Linked DNA regions of Homo sapiens: region 1 is linked to region 2. Evidence: fine-mapped expression QTL. Tissue or cell type: whole blood. Region 2 holds a variant in brackets; the other region holds the start of a gene. All regions are shown on one strand. Distances are between the middles of the regions.

The links. PIP is the estimated chance that this variant, and not a neighbour inherited with it, causes the effect.
Region 1: POMC starts here. The variant in region 2 is fine-mapped to the expression of POMC in whole blood (TOPMed, PIP above 0.99). The same link has a PIP of 0.9 or more in lung.

Annotation. Positions count from the first base shown.
Region 1 is chr2:25,165,736-25,171,439 of GRCh38, reverse strand. It overlaps POMC (proopiomelanocortin), which reads left to right and starts at 2,860. Exons shown (of 3, transcript NM_000939.4): 1 at 2,860-2,942. RefSeq lists cis regulatory regions at 2,558-2,583, 2,584-2,757, 2,823-2,835, an enhancer at 2,744-2,763 and a promoter at 2,174-2,986.
Region 2 is chr2:24,894,419-24,902,670 of GRCh38, reverse strand. All of the region lies in intron 2 of ADCY3 (adenylate cyclase 3), which reads left to right. Among named protein-coding and RNA genes, the nearest start is that of ADCY3, 22 kb to the left of the region's middle. RefSeq lists an enhancer at 3,016-3,935. The variant G/A (reference allele first, on the strand shown) is at 3,579.

The DNA of each region.
Region 1 (5,704 bases), 270 kb before region 2:
CCATCTCATGAACATCAATGCAAATGTCTTAAATAAAATATTAGCAAATTGAGTCCAGTGCTTTCTGTATAAGGATAATACATCATAATCAAATTGGGTTTAATCTAAGAAGCCATGGTAGGTTTAACACCAAAAAATCAACAATGCAATAATTCACCACATTACTAGAATAAAGGTGAAAAATTATGTCATGTCAGACAATCAAAGGCACCTGTTCTAGGCTTTCAAAGAGGAGCTAGTGGTACAAGGATGCAAGGGCAGTGGTGACTCCTTTCTAGTGGCATTAGCTGAAGTGAGAATGGCAGCGTCCCATCCTGGGGACAGAAGTGACGTCTATGTCAGACGCCTGTGGTCTTGACATGCCCCTTGTGGCCCCTTGTGGTCTGTTTTTTTTTTCTCCACTGGATGTGATTTTGGCCATGGTTCCAGCCACACTGTGTCCCTGCCCATTTTTAGATCCTGGTCCCCCAACCTGCCCAGTGATTTTTTTTTTTTTTTAGATGGAGTCTTGCTGTGTCGCCAGGCTGGAGTGCAGTGGCGCGATCTCGGCTCACCGCAACCTCCGCCTCCCAGGTTCAAGCGATTCTCCTGCCTCAGCCACCCGAGTAGCTGGGACTACAGGTGTGCGCCACCACGCCCGGCTAATTTTTGTATTTTTAGTAGAGACGGGGTTTCGCCATCTTGGCCAGGAATGTCTCCATCTCTTGACCTCGTGATCTGCCCAACTCAGCCTCCCAGAGTGCTGGGATTACAGGCGTGAGCCACTGTGCCCCGCCTACCCAGTGATTCTAAATGCAGTTCAATGGCCTTTCAGTTCATGGAGGCCAAAGCAGGTTCTGCTGCATTAAATTAAGAAACTGGGCTGGGTGTGGTGGCTAACACCTGTAATCCCAGCACTTCAGGATACTGATGTGGATTACTTGAGCCCAGGAGCTTGAGACCAGCCTAGGCAACATAGTGAAACCCTGTCTCTACCAAAAACAAAAACAAAAACAAAACAAAAAACCAAAACCCAAAATTAGCTGGGCATGGTGGCATGCATCTGTGGTTCCAGGTACTCAGGAGGCTGAAGCATGAGGATCACTTGAGCCCAGGAGGTGGAGGCTGCAGTGAGCAGTGTTCACACTGCTGCATTCCAGCCTGGGCAACAGAGTGAGACCCTAATTCAAAAACAAACAAACAGAATGAGAGAGAGAGAGAAGAAAAGAAAGAAGGAACCCAGTTAAAGAAGTTGGGTCCATTTGGATTTTTCCTGGTTTGTTTTATCTGCTGCCACCAGCAGCCTCCTGAAGTTACAAAAATAACACAAAGTAAAATAAGGCAAAACCACCATCTGCTTGAAAGAGTTTACAAACCTGATGGTGGTCGTGGGGTGGATGGAAGATTAAAAAAATGGGGACAGAAGTGAATTAGTGCAAGCCACTTGCACTGACAAGATGGGGATGGACTTCTGTGGAAGGCAGAGGAGGTCATGCCTCATGCCCCTGGTAGGAAAAGTGGCCAAAGAGGGCTTCAGAGAACAGGGGCTGATGGATGGGCTACATCTTGATGTGAGTCAAGCTCCTGGATGGCTGGAGAGAGGAAGGATGTTCTAGTTGGGGGAACAGCTTGGACAATGGAGACCCAAGAAAGCCATGTTCTAGCAGTGTGAATGTTGTGGATGCTGAAGTGCCAGGATGCAAGGTGGAGAACTGGGAAATGGCCCTGGAAAGGGGCCAAAGCCGGGTGATGAAGCACCTTGTCTACTGTGACGGAGCTTGGATCTCTCTTGTGGTCCAAAGGGAAAGGATTGCTGAATGTAAAGCCAATGTCACCAGAAAAGCTGAATCCACAAGAGAGTCCTGGAGTCCAAAAGAGCATCTCATGGGGAATCAGGAAAGTTCTGGCATTTGGCAGATTAAGCAAGTGTCTTGATTTGAAGTCCAGTTTAGTCCCAATACTCCCTCCCACACCCACCACATCGCACAATTTGGTTTTGTTTATTTACTCCAGGTTAAGGTAGAGTCTCTTAGCTTGGTTTGAGTGCTGTACTCTTCTCTCTGGTCTGATATTTGGAACTAAAGCCAAGCCAGAACTCCAGGGCCAAGGGGGATGTTGAAAATTGTCTGAGTCCCCAGACCACCCTGCCAGCTCATGGCAAAGGGAGGGATCAGAGGCCACAGGGAAAGCACTTCAGCTGCTCTTCACAGCATCACCCTCTCCCCATTTAATGGTTTAGGTTAACAGGACTTTTTCCTTGAGGCTTGGGACACGGAAGGGAGCCTCCCCTAAACCAGGCCCTTGGAGAGCAGGCCCCAGGGGAGCAGTGCAACTCACCTTCACACCCACAAGACGGCTCCTGACTTCTGCTCCCTCCTCCCCTCCCCAAAGTGGAACAGAGAGAATATGATTCCCCACGACTTCCACATCACAGTTTCCAAACAATGGGGAAATCGGAGGCCTCCCCGTGTGCAGACGGTGATATTTACCGCCAAATGCGAACCAGGCAGATGCCAGCCCCAGCACGCACGCAGGTAACTTCACCCTCGCCTCAACGACCTCAGAGGCTGCCCGGCCTGCCCCACACGGGGGTGCTAAGCCTCCCGCCCGTTCTAAGCGGAGACCCAACGCCATCCATAATTAAGTTCTTCCTGAGGGCGAGCGGCCAGGTGCGCCTTCGGCAGGACAGTGCTAATTCCAGCCCCTTTCCAGCGCGTCTCCCCGCGCTCGTCCCCCGTCTGGAAGCCCCCCTCCCACGCCCCGCGGCCCCCCTTCCCCTGGCCCGGGGAGCTGCTCCTTGTGCTGCCGGGAAGGTCAAAGTCCCGCGCCCACCAGGAGAGCTCGGCAAGTATATAAGGACAGAGGAGCGCGGGACCAAGCGGCGGCGAAGGAGGGGAAGAAGAGCCGCGACCGAGAGAGGCCGCCGAGCGTCCCCGCCCTCAGAGAGCAGCCTCCCGAGACAGGTAAGGGCGCAGCGTGGGGGACCCGTGCTCTTTCCCCGGGATCCCCTGTCCCCGTCCTCGCGATGCAGTCGGCCGGCTCCGGCTCCGAAGGCGGACCTGGGCGCCTCTGGCTCTCCGCGGTCCCGAGTTCTCGACAAACTTTCTGCGCCGACTGCGGCATGAGAAGCCGCCAGTAGCTGAGCTGGAGGGCCCACGTCCGGCCCCTGGGCGGACGGCCGCGAAGCTGCAGGCGCTGTCTCCAGGGAGCCGGCGGCCTCCTCTCCCCCAGGGGCTCGCGGCGGTCCGGAGGCTCCGAGAGCTTGCTAGGAGGTCTTGGGACAACCCGGTCTTTTTTTTTTTTTTTGAGACGGAGTTTCGCTCTTGTTGCCCATGCTGGAGAGCAAAGGGGTGATCTCTGCTCACCGCAACCTTCGCCTCCCGGGTTCAAGCGATTCTCCTGCTTCAGCCTCCCGAGTAGCTGGGATTACAGGCATGCGCCACCACGCCCGGCTAATTTTTGTATTTTTAGTAGAGACGGAGTTTCTCCATGTTGGTCAGGCTGGTCTCAAACTCCCGACAACAGGTGATCCGCCCGCCTTGGCCCCCCAAAGTTCTGGCATTACAGGCGCGAGCCACCGCCCCCGGCCAGCCCGGTCTTTTAGTATCTCTTGCTCCCAGTTTCCAGGATAGGTGTCACATCTTGAAAGTCAAATTCCATACACGCTATCGCAAATTAATGTTGGAAACGGGGCAGCAGAGAAAAGGATAAAAGTCATAATGAACGCCCTGCCTTCCGGATTTTTTCGGATTCAGACCCCTGAATCCTTGTTTCCTTGCCCACCTTAGCGCACCCGAGGTGGCCGCGCTATGATAATTACATGATAACTGGGTCAATTACAATGCAGAATAGTTGGGTCTCTTCTCTCCAAGACCTAGCTGGGGTTAAAAACAGGTGGCCGGGGCGGGAGCTGTCCTAGATCCTGAAACGCACTGTCTAGTTTCGGATGCCCTCAACAGAACCGGGGTGGACGGTTTATGGCGCAGATCCTGGGTTGAGGGCACGGGCAGCCATTTGGAATGATCAAGGCTCAGGTAAGGGGCGTTTCCAGCGAAGGAGAGACAGTCCACTTGGCATTTGGATTCCCCAAATTCTTCATGTTTAAATGGGGCAGGGAGGGTTCTTACAGAATGGCTGGAAGGAGCCAAGGAAAATAAAAGTGTGTGTGGATTTTTTTTGTGTGTGTGTCAGTTTATAAACTCTGCACAGATTATGGCCACTTTAATGACTTACTGTTCCTTTGATGCTTTTGTTATAGGACTCGATGCATGTATGTCATGGTGTAAGGACAAAACTCGGCCCCTGTGCTCCTCTAATCTTTACAAAAGGTCATGGCCAGCGTGCAGTTTTACAGTAACAAGCAAAATGATTTGTTGAGCTCATAGAGAGCCCCTCACACCTATGAAGTTCTAATAAGTGTAGTTCTACTATAAAGTTAATCTCAGGATGAGCAAATTTCAAGTTTCTATTTTTCCAGAGCTTTCCATTTTTGGATTATAATACTTTCCCTACTTAAAAAAGCACAACATTTGATATTTCCCCAATAATTTGTTGCTTTAAAAATGACACAAAAGGTACTATTTGTTCATTGTAGAGAACTGAAAATACACATAAGCAAATACACATACACATAAGCAAAATATACAATACAAACACAAGACCATCTTTCAGGGAAGAATCTGAAGTTTTAGCAATAGCAGCCATCTAACCAGTTTAGCAACAGAATATAAGCTCTGAGAGGGTGGGAGTGAATATGTTACCACATTGTACAACACAGCACATAGGGCATAAGGAGGGGAAATGCTCTCTGGGGCTTTCCAGGAAGGCCTGAAGTCATTGCTTCTAGCAAATGGAAATCACTCCAGAGTAGTTATCTTTGACAAGAATTGAAATATAATTGAGGGAACTATCAGACCTGTAAGATTTTGTTTTTTCCTTTACTAATATGTTACTTTACATTTGCATTTGGTGACATACGTAACTACCATTTTTCTGTGACTGTAACATCTGGGCATTTTTCAGAGCTAAATGTGCTATGGTCAACTTGGAGCTTTAATCTAATTGCCTGGTCCACCAAGTTCTGGCTGTGTACTTGAATAGATCACTGGCAGGGTACAATGGGAACAGCCTGTCCCTTGGAGCCAGGAGAGGACACCAAGGTTGACCAAAGCTCGTTCAGTTGCCCCTTTAGCCGAAGCGCACCTGGGCCAGTCACTGGCTGCCAGTGCCATCTAATGGCTGCTCTGAAAATGCTCAGCCTTGCCCGGCAACCCTTCAGAAGCTAGCACCGTGCAGGCCCAGCGCCTGGGGAATAGGGCGAGGGTGGGGTAGAGAGAAGGAAGTGGCCTCCTGAAGTAGAAATCAGCGCTTCAGAGGACTTTCACTTCCAAAGCCTCCCCTATATAAAAAAGATTTGGCCCACGCCTCCCCAAATGAGAGATTTATTTTAGGCAAACTTATTTTAAAATGCCAGCGTTCATTAGGAGTGACAAGACACTTAGTCATCCACGCTTTAATGTGAATTACTTTTCTCATCTAATTACATTTCTTTCTAGCAGCTGGCTGAGAAGATCTTCTGAAATCCAAAATGATTGTAGGGTTGGCGGTGAGCTGATCTCCGGCCTCGAGGTGGCTTCAGGGGGCCCACCTGGTTAAGGGAAATTTGGCAGTGCGAGGGTAGTGCTGGAGAGAGGGGTGGGTACAGGGGGCTAGGGGCACCATGGAT
Region 2 (8,252 bases):
TGAGGAGGAGGAGAAAGAGAAGGGGTTGGTTTTGCTGTCTCAGGGGTTGCCGAGGTGAAAGAAAATCTGCAAGTGGACCTGTGCGGTTCAAACCCTGTTGTTCAAGGGCCAACTATGGTGTGGTAAGAGCTATGGTACCTTAACAGACACTCCACGGGGCTGGGAGAGAAGTTGACTTGGATGGGGCACCATGGCACATGTTGGGATGATGGCAGTCTTTCGTATCTTGCTTGGAGAAGTAGTCACACAGCTGTACATATTTGTCCATATTCATCAAAATATACACCTAAGGCTGGGCAAGGTGGCTCACGTCTATAATCTCAACACTTTGGGAGGCCAAAGTGGGAGGATCGCTTGAGCCCAGGAATTCGAGACTAGACTGGGCAAAATAGTGAGACCTCATCTTTACACAGAATTAAAAAATTAGCCAGGCGTGGTGGCACACACTTGTGGTCCCAGACACTAGGGAGACTGAGGCAGGAGGATCGCTTGAGCCCAGGAGGTTGAGGCTGCAGTGAGCCATGATCACAACACTGCACTCCAACCTGGGTAACAGAGTGAGACCCTGTCTCAAAAAAAAAAAAAAAAACCAAATACACACACACACACACACACACACACACACACACACACACAGAGTTAAAATGTGTGCCATCTACTAAAATTCAGTAGGTTTTATAAAAAGTCAGTAAAATACAGGAATCACAAAAATTGTGCATACATATATACATTTATATGTATTTTAAATAGTTTGTTTTAATTGAAAACATTTAGCTATACAGTCATTTGCCAATCTTTTGTTGAAGGGAAAGTTCTTTCCTTTTTATATAGGTACTCTGTTTGGTATTCCTTGTGGCCTTTTTCTTTTTCCTTCTTCTTTTTTTTTTTTTTAAAGATGAGGTCTTGCTATGTTGCCCAGGTTGGGCTTGAGCTCCTGGGTTCAAGTGATCCTCCCACCTTGACCTCCTGAGTAGCTAGGACCACCGGTGTTAGCCACCACCCCCTCCTATGGCCTTCTTTTGCAGCTGGGATGTGTTGTGTGTCATTTCCAGTTTCCTTAAAGTGGAGTAAGAATTAAAAGTCACTTGGAAGGAACCTGGGTACAGAATCCCCCTACATTTTTATTACTGTTCTTTCTTTTTGGCCAAATTGTTACTGTCTTGCCTACCTTGAATTCAACAGCAATTTCTTCTAGCTACTTATATTTGTCAAAAATGTTCAAAATACTCACTTTACTTTTTTTAGAAACAACGCGCTTTCTTTCACATCCATATTTTATCTGTGTAGGTTATATTTAATTAAGTTATGTAAATATAATACCAAAAACAACTGGCATAAACAGGTTTGGGACTAAACATAAGTGATTCTTGGAAAATACTCCGAAAGTTGGAGCAGAAATAAATGCATGGCCTTCCTAGAGAGGAGCTTGCCTGCGGCACGTGTAACGTCAGTTGATTTCTGGAGGGACTGGACTATCTTGGTGGATCCAGTGTCTCGGCTCTGGGGACTCCAGCGCTATCCTGTGCCCCTGCCCCTTCCTGCTCGGCTCTGACCTGCTCCCTCCTCGCTGCTTCCATTCCTGGTTCTTTCATTTTCCTTTTTTTTGAGACGGAGTCTCACTGTTGTCGCCCAGGCTGGAGTGCAATGGCATGATCTCGGCTCACTGCAACCTCTGCCTCCTGAGTTCAAGCGATTCTCCTGCCTCAGCCTCTCAAGTAGCTGGGATTACAGGTGCCCACTACCACGCCCAGCTGATTTTTGTATTTTTAGTAGAGATGGGGTTTCACCATGTTGGCCAGGCTGGTCTTGAACTCCTGACCTCAGGTGATCCACCCGTCTCGGCCTCCCAAACTGCTGGGATTACAGGCATGAGCCACCCTTTCCTGGTTCTAATTTGTCCACAGGAAGTAATGCATGTCTACTTCTTGTTTTCTACACAGCAGCCCTTCCAGTGTTTGAATTCAGCTATGTTGCTCTCCCTGGATCTCCTCTTCAGCCTCGCCCATCTCCCTTTTTCAAGAAGTCCTCAGGCGACATGGTTTCCAGACCTTACATGGTCCTGGGCACTTTCTCTAGGTGTAGACTAAAGCGCATTGCTCAGGACTGCCTTCTCCTGTTTGCCCAGGCTGCTCACAGAACCTTGTCCATCCTGCCTAGCTGCGGGACACAAACACTGCAGGTAGAAATTCTGTAGCTATACATTTAAGATTGGGGGTATGGCCCCCCCATTTCTGGAAAGTTTATATGTCAGGCCTTAATGATAGAGCTATTGTCTACATAAACATTTACGTTTTTAAAAAATTTTTTATTTATTTTTTTTTTTTTTGAGACAGAGTCTGGCTCTTTTGCCCAGGCTGGAGTGCAGTGGCATGATCTCAGCTCACTGCAACCTTCGCCTCCTGGGTGGTGGCGCACACCTGTAATCCCAGCTACTCAGGAGGCTGAGACAGGAGAATTGCTTGAACCTGGGAGGCGGAGGTTGCAGTGAGTCGAGATTTCGCCACTGCACTCCAGCCTGGGTGACAGAGCAAGACTCTGTCTCAAAAAGAAAAAAAAAAAGGCAACTTCATTTCATATGATTCAATCTAACATAAAAGTAACAAATGTATTCACTGTGGAAAGCCTGGAAAATACTATGTAGTATGAAAAAATATTACCCATAATATTATTTCTGAAGGATAACTGCTATTAACATTGAGGCTTCTCTTAAACGAATATCAGTTTTCTTCTATATTATGAAGCACTATTGTAAGAAAATAATTCAACCTAGACAGGAGTACAAAGAATAAAAGTGAAAGTCCTCCTTCCTTCCCTTGCTCCCCTTCTCATAGGTACCCATTGCCAAATGTTTGGTGTGGATACTTCCAGAGATCTTTCTGTGAATTGCATATTTATGTGACTCTATGCACATTTAGGACAGATACATTCTTTATATAAGCTTATGCAAATCGGGGAAGCAAAGCTCTACACACCCCTCTATGGTAACTGTAGTTTCCTCTCAAGGGGATGAGATGCCTCTGCCGTCTGCAGCCCTGCCTCCATCAGCTGGGTGGTGCCACTCGAGGTCCACACTGGTGGCCTCCTTGAGCCACAGCCACCTCTCGAGCTGAGGAAGAGTCAGGGCTGGTCTAGCAAGCTGCTTCTGCTTGCTTCCATCTGCAGCAGCAAGAAGGCATCTTTCAAGGGCCTACTGGGCAGGAAATCCAGGGACAGTTTTGCCTGGCAGGCTGGTGGCAGAGGTGGCTGGGGTGACAGCAGCATTCCAGCCGAGAGTGAGGTCCCGCTCTTAGACAGACATGGGCTTTGGTCGCAAGAGAATGGTTTATTTATTGGGATTGAAGAAGGCATCAAAATCAATACAGTCATCACCTCACAGGGCAGAAGAGCGGATGGTGGTTTGGGGAGAAGGAGGCGGTGTGCCAGGAGGAGGGAAGCGTGGCCCAGAGTTGGATGCCTGGGGCCCTGGGCAGCGCAGCTGACCTCCCTGGGCCTCTGTGGGTCAGCTGCCTAGGGAGTTGCCTAGGCAGTTGGCAACTGCCTAGTGGCTCTGCCTAGGGAGCAGAGGTAGAGACAGGTGA[G/A]CTGGGAAAAGGTGGGAGGGGTAGGGGGACATTGGAAGCCAGTGACACCGGGATTCAGGGTGACAAGGGGCATGAGGGGACAGTGGAGTGTTTGGAGGCTATTGAGTGCGTGGTTGTGTGGTGAGAACAGGGAGAATGGTGGTGGAGCTGGAGGGAGGGCAGGTCACCTGCCGTGGTCGTGCTTGGCGTCCGCGCTGGAGTTCTCTGGCGGTGAAAGGGTTTCCAGTGTGAACTGGAGCTATCCCCAGGCTGCAGACCTCCCACTGCTGAGCTGCTGTTGGTTGCGTGGTAAATTTTGCTTTTGTTCTCCCAGTCTTAGGAATTCTGTTTGCTTCCCCGAACCTCCCAGGCTTCCCCAGGCAAGGGTTGTCTCCCCAGAGACCTGGAGCCGGGAGCTGTGCGGTTTCCTGGGACCTGTGGCTTCTGCTCCTTTGCTTTGTGGAAAGGAAGTCAGAGGCGGAAATGGGAGGGCTCCTTTCCAGTGCTGCAGGGCTCCATTGAGAGGCTGATTTGAGAGTGAAGATCTTCGGAGGATATTTCCTCTGGCTGAGTGTAATTGACTTAATCTGTGGTGTGGCTCATTTTTCCTTTTGGAAAAAGGAGAGATGGCGCCTGACTCACCCCTTCATGAAGCACTGTGTGAAGTACACGAAGCCCCTCTCCCCGAGGACAGCCCTGCATAGGTGCATTCCCACACAGTCAGTGTCCCGACTCCCATCCCGCAGACAGTAGGTCCACTCCCTTCCTTTCTTCTCGGTGCGAGGGTGGGGCTCACCCCACGGTGATGGAAAGGCGGTCCTCGAGCCTCCCCGGGGGCCTCTGTGGCGCACGAACTGGGAGAGTGGAGAGAAAAGCCCCTCAGGAGGAGGAGTACTGAGCTGGGCCGTGAAGGGCACGTTGGATTTCGATCCTGAGGTCAGTAGGGGAGGGGCAGTGGCAGTGGCTTGTGAACAAAGGTCTGGGGGTGAACATAGACGGGGTAGTGGAGAACCTCTGACTGGAGAGTTGGGTGCAGTAGTAACAAAGAAGCCTGGAAGGTTATTTGGGATCTGAAATGGGGAGGAGTAAAAGCCATATGAGACAGTTCTGACTCCATTTTGTAGACAGTGGACAGCCATTGAAAGCTTTGGAGCAGGCAGTTGACCTGAGCCCTGCTACCTTTCAGGAAGATGATTCTGGCAGCGAACGGTGATGGCTGTGAGCAGCAGAGTATGTGAGAACCTGCCTGAACGTGGCGGGATACAAGGACCTGACCTGAGCCACCGAAGCGGGTATAGGAGAGAGAGGGATTCGTTCAGCCAGCATAGACGGAGGGCCTGCTGGTGCTCAGCATATTAGAAGGTGCAAAATGGAAAAGTCTGGGTTGTTGTCCTTGCTGAACTTCCCGTGTGAGTGTGAAGATTTCAACACACTCCCCATAAACTGATGAGAGACTATTTCAAATCACCCATGAGAAGGTGGAGGAAGAGAACAGCCAGCCACATGTGACATCGTGATGGTAGAGTTGGGAGGAACACTGACCAAGCACCTGTTTCGCGCCGGGCACTGTGTCAGGTGCTCTGATCCTCTCCCCAACCCTGGGGAGATTTCAGAGAGAGACTGAGGTGCTTTCTCAGGGACACACAGGCCCTTGGCAGGTGAGGCTGGTGTTCAGCTTCTGCTCTGTCCAGTTTCAGAGTCTTGGCTCTTTATGCCAAGGGCAGGGGGCTTTGAACCAGGCCTTGAAGTTAGTGGTAGCAATGGAGGTGGGGGTACATTCTATAAGAAGTCCCAGAAAGAGAGAGGGAGAGAGACAAAGAGAGAGAGAAGAGGGAGGAGGAGGAGGAGGAGAAGGGGGAGGAGGAGAAAAAGGAGAAGGGGAAGGAGGAGGAGGGTGTGGCTGAATTAGAGACCAGGAATGGCAGTTAGGGAAAGATGGGGTACAGGTATGGTAGGCAAGAGGGATATGGTTGAAAGAGGGTGGGTGGCTGGTCTCTTTCTTCCTCTGATCTACCATGATGTCATCTTGCGAAAAGATGATGAGACTTCTGCTTCCAGTCGAGAGTGAGCAGGACAGCCTGGAATTATTCTCCCACTGTAAACAACTAGGAGCTGGATAAAATATAGGGACCAGGCAATGGTGGACTGTGATTCCTTGGAAAAAGAAGACTAACCGAGTGAGCCCTATCGTTCATTACCTAGCCTTTCTACCTGAAGAGAATTCTACCACAGGGAGGGAGAACCCAAACGGAGACTGGCGAGATTACTAAGTTGAGGGAACAGAGATCAGAATTTGGAGACACCAAGTTCTAAGGTTTCTAGAATCTGTGGGACAGAATCCTAAAAGGAAGAAGCTGGAAAGAGAAAGATCTCCAGAAATCTCGATAGAGGCCTCCTGGAATCTCGGTGAATATCAATCTGCTCATGCACAGGGCAACCCTGTGAGACCAGAAGAGAACAACTGCAGAGGGAGCTGTAAGACAAACAGGATAGAGCCAACACAGGACCAGGGTTCACTGGAGTCCTCTTTAAAAGAATATGACAAAATTATGCATTGAAAAATGGTAACGTTTGCAGTGTGAGACATCCAGCAAAAAATTACTAGACAAAGAAGGAAATGTGACTGACCCACTAACAAAAAAAAAGTGGTCAATAGAAATAGACCTAGCAATGACAAAGATGTGATGGAATTATCAGGGAAAGGACATGAAAATAACTTTTTTTTTTTTGTAACAGAATCTCACTTTGTTACCCAGGCTGGAGTGCAGTGGCACGATCTCGGCTCACTGCAACCTTTGCCTCCCAGGTTCAAGCGATTCTCCTGCCTCAGCCTCCGGAGTAGCTGGGATTACAGGTGCATGCCACCATGCCTGGCTAATTTTTGTATTTTTTAGTAGAGATGGGGTTTCGCCATGTTGACCAGGCTGGTCTCAAACTCCCGACTTCATGATCTGCCCATCTCGGCCTCCCAAAGTGCTGGGATTACAGGCTTGAGCCACTGTGCACAGCCCGAATATAACTTTTATAAATATGTTTCATTTGATCAAGCATGTAAATGAACACATCAGGATGATGGGAAGAGAAATGGAAAGTATAAGAAGATCCAGTAGCACCTCTAGGGATGAAAAATCAAAATATCAACTACAAAATCAAAAATGAAAAGCTAGGTAGATAGGATTAATAGTAGATTAGACAGTGCAGAAGAAATGATCAGTGAATTGAAGCTAGAGCAATAAAACTATCTAAAATTAAGCACATAAAGATAAAATATTCCACCCTGGGCAATATGGTGAAACCCTGTCTCTACAAAAAATACAAAAATTAGCCAGGAGTGGTGGCATGTGCCTGTGGTCCCAGCTACTCAGGAGGCTGAGACGGGAGGATCACATGAGCTCAACGGCATAGGTTGTGTTGAGCCAAGATTCCATCACTGCACTCTAGCTTGGGTGACAGAGTGAGACCCTGTCTCAAAAGAAAAAAAAAAAGAAGAAGAAAGAAAGAAAAAACATTGACAAAAGGTAATACTCAGAGCATCACTGGCATGTGGGACAATATAACAGACCCTAATATGTTTAATTGAAGTCTCAAAAGAACAGAGAGAAAGACAGAAAAAAATATTTGAAGAAATAATGGTGGGAAAACGTCCAAATTTGATGAAAACTCAACCCATGACTCAAGAAGCTCAACAGAATACAAACAAATATAAGGAATAAGAATGAAGAGAATTGGTCAGGCGTGGTGGCTCATGCCTGTAATCTCAGCACTTTGGGAGGCTGAGGTGGGCGGATCACAATGTCAAGAGATCGAGACCATCGACAAACATGGTCAAACCCCGTCTCTCCTAAAAATACAAAAATTAGCTGGGCGTGGTGGTGTGTGCCCGTAGTCCCAGTTACTCAGGAGGCTGAAGCAGGAGAATCGCTTGAACCCATGAGGAGGAGGTTGCAGTGAGCCGAGATTGCACCACTGCACTCCAGCCTGGCGACAGAGCAAGACTCCATCTCAAAAAAAAGAAAAAGAAAAATGAAGATAATTACATCAAGGCACATTGTAATCAGATTGCTTAATAAAGATACACTCATAAAAGTAACCAGAAAGAAAACAAAAAGGAAAAAAAAGACACACGACATAGAGAGGAACAAAGATAAGAATGACAGCAGATGTGTGGTCAGAAATTATTCAAGGCAGAAGACAGTAGAACTGAAAAAGAAAGTAGGTCAATCTAGAATTCTATACCCAACACAAATATCCTTCAAAAATGAAGGTGAAATAAACACTTTTTGATGGACAAACTGAAGTTGAGAGAATTCGTAACCAGCAGACCTGTAGTACAAAAAATGTTGAGGCAAGTTTTTTAGGCAGAAGAAAAATGATACTAGATAGAAATTTGGGCTGCACAAAGGAGTGAAGAGGCTTCCAAATGGTAAATTATATGGAAACATATGAAAGTTATCTTTTCTCATTTTTAATCTCTTTGAGAAACTGCTTAAAGCAAAAATATAAACAAGGTACTTTGGAGTTTAGAACATACATAGAAGCAAAATGTATGACAAAAATAGCACAAAGGACAGGAGGGGAGAAATGAAAGTATATTGTTATAATTTTCTTATTTATCTTTATTTATTGTTACTAGTTTTTAGAGACAGTGTCTCACTCTGTTGCCCAGGCTCGACAGCAGTGGCACAATTATAGCTC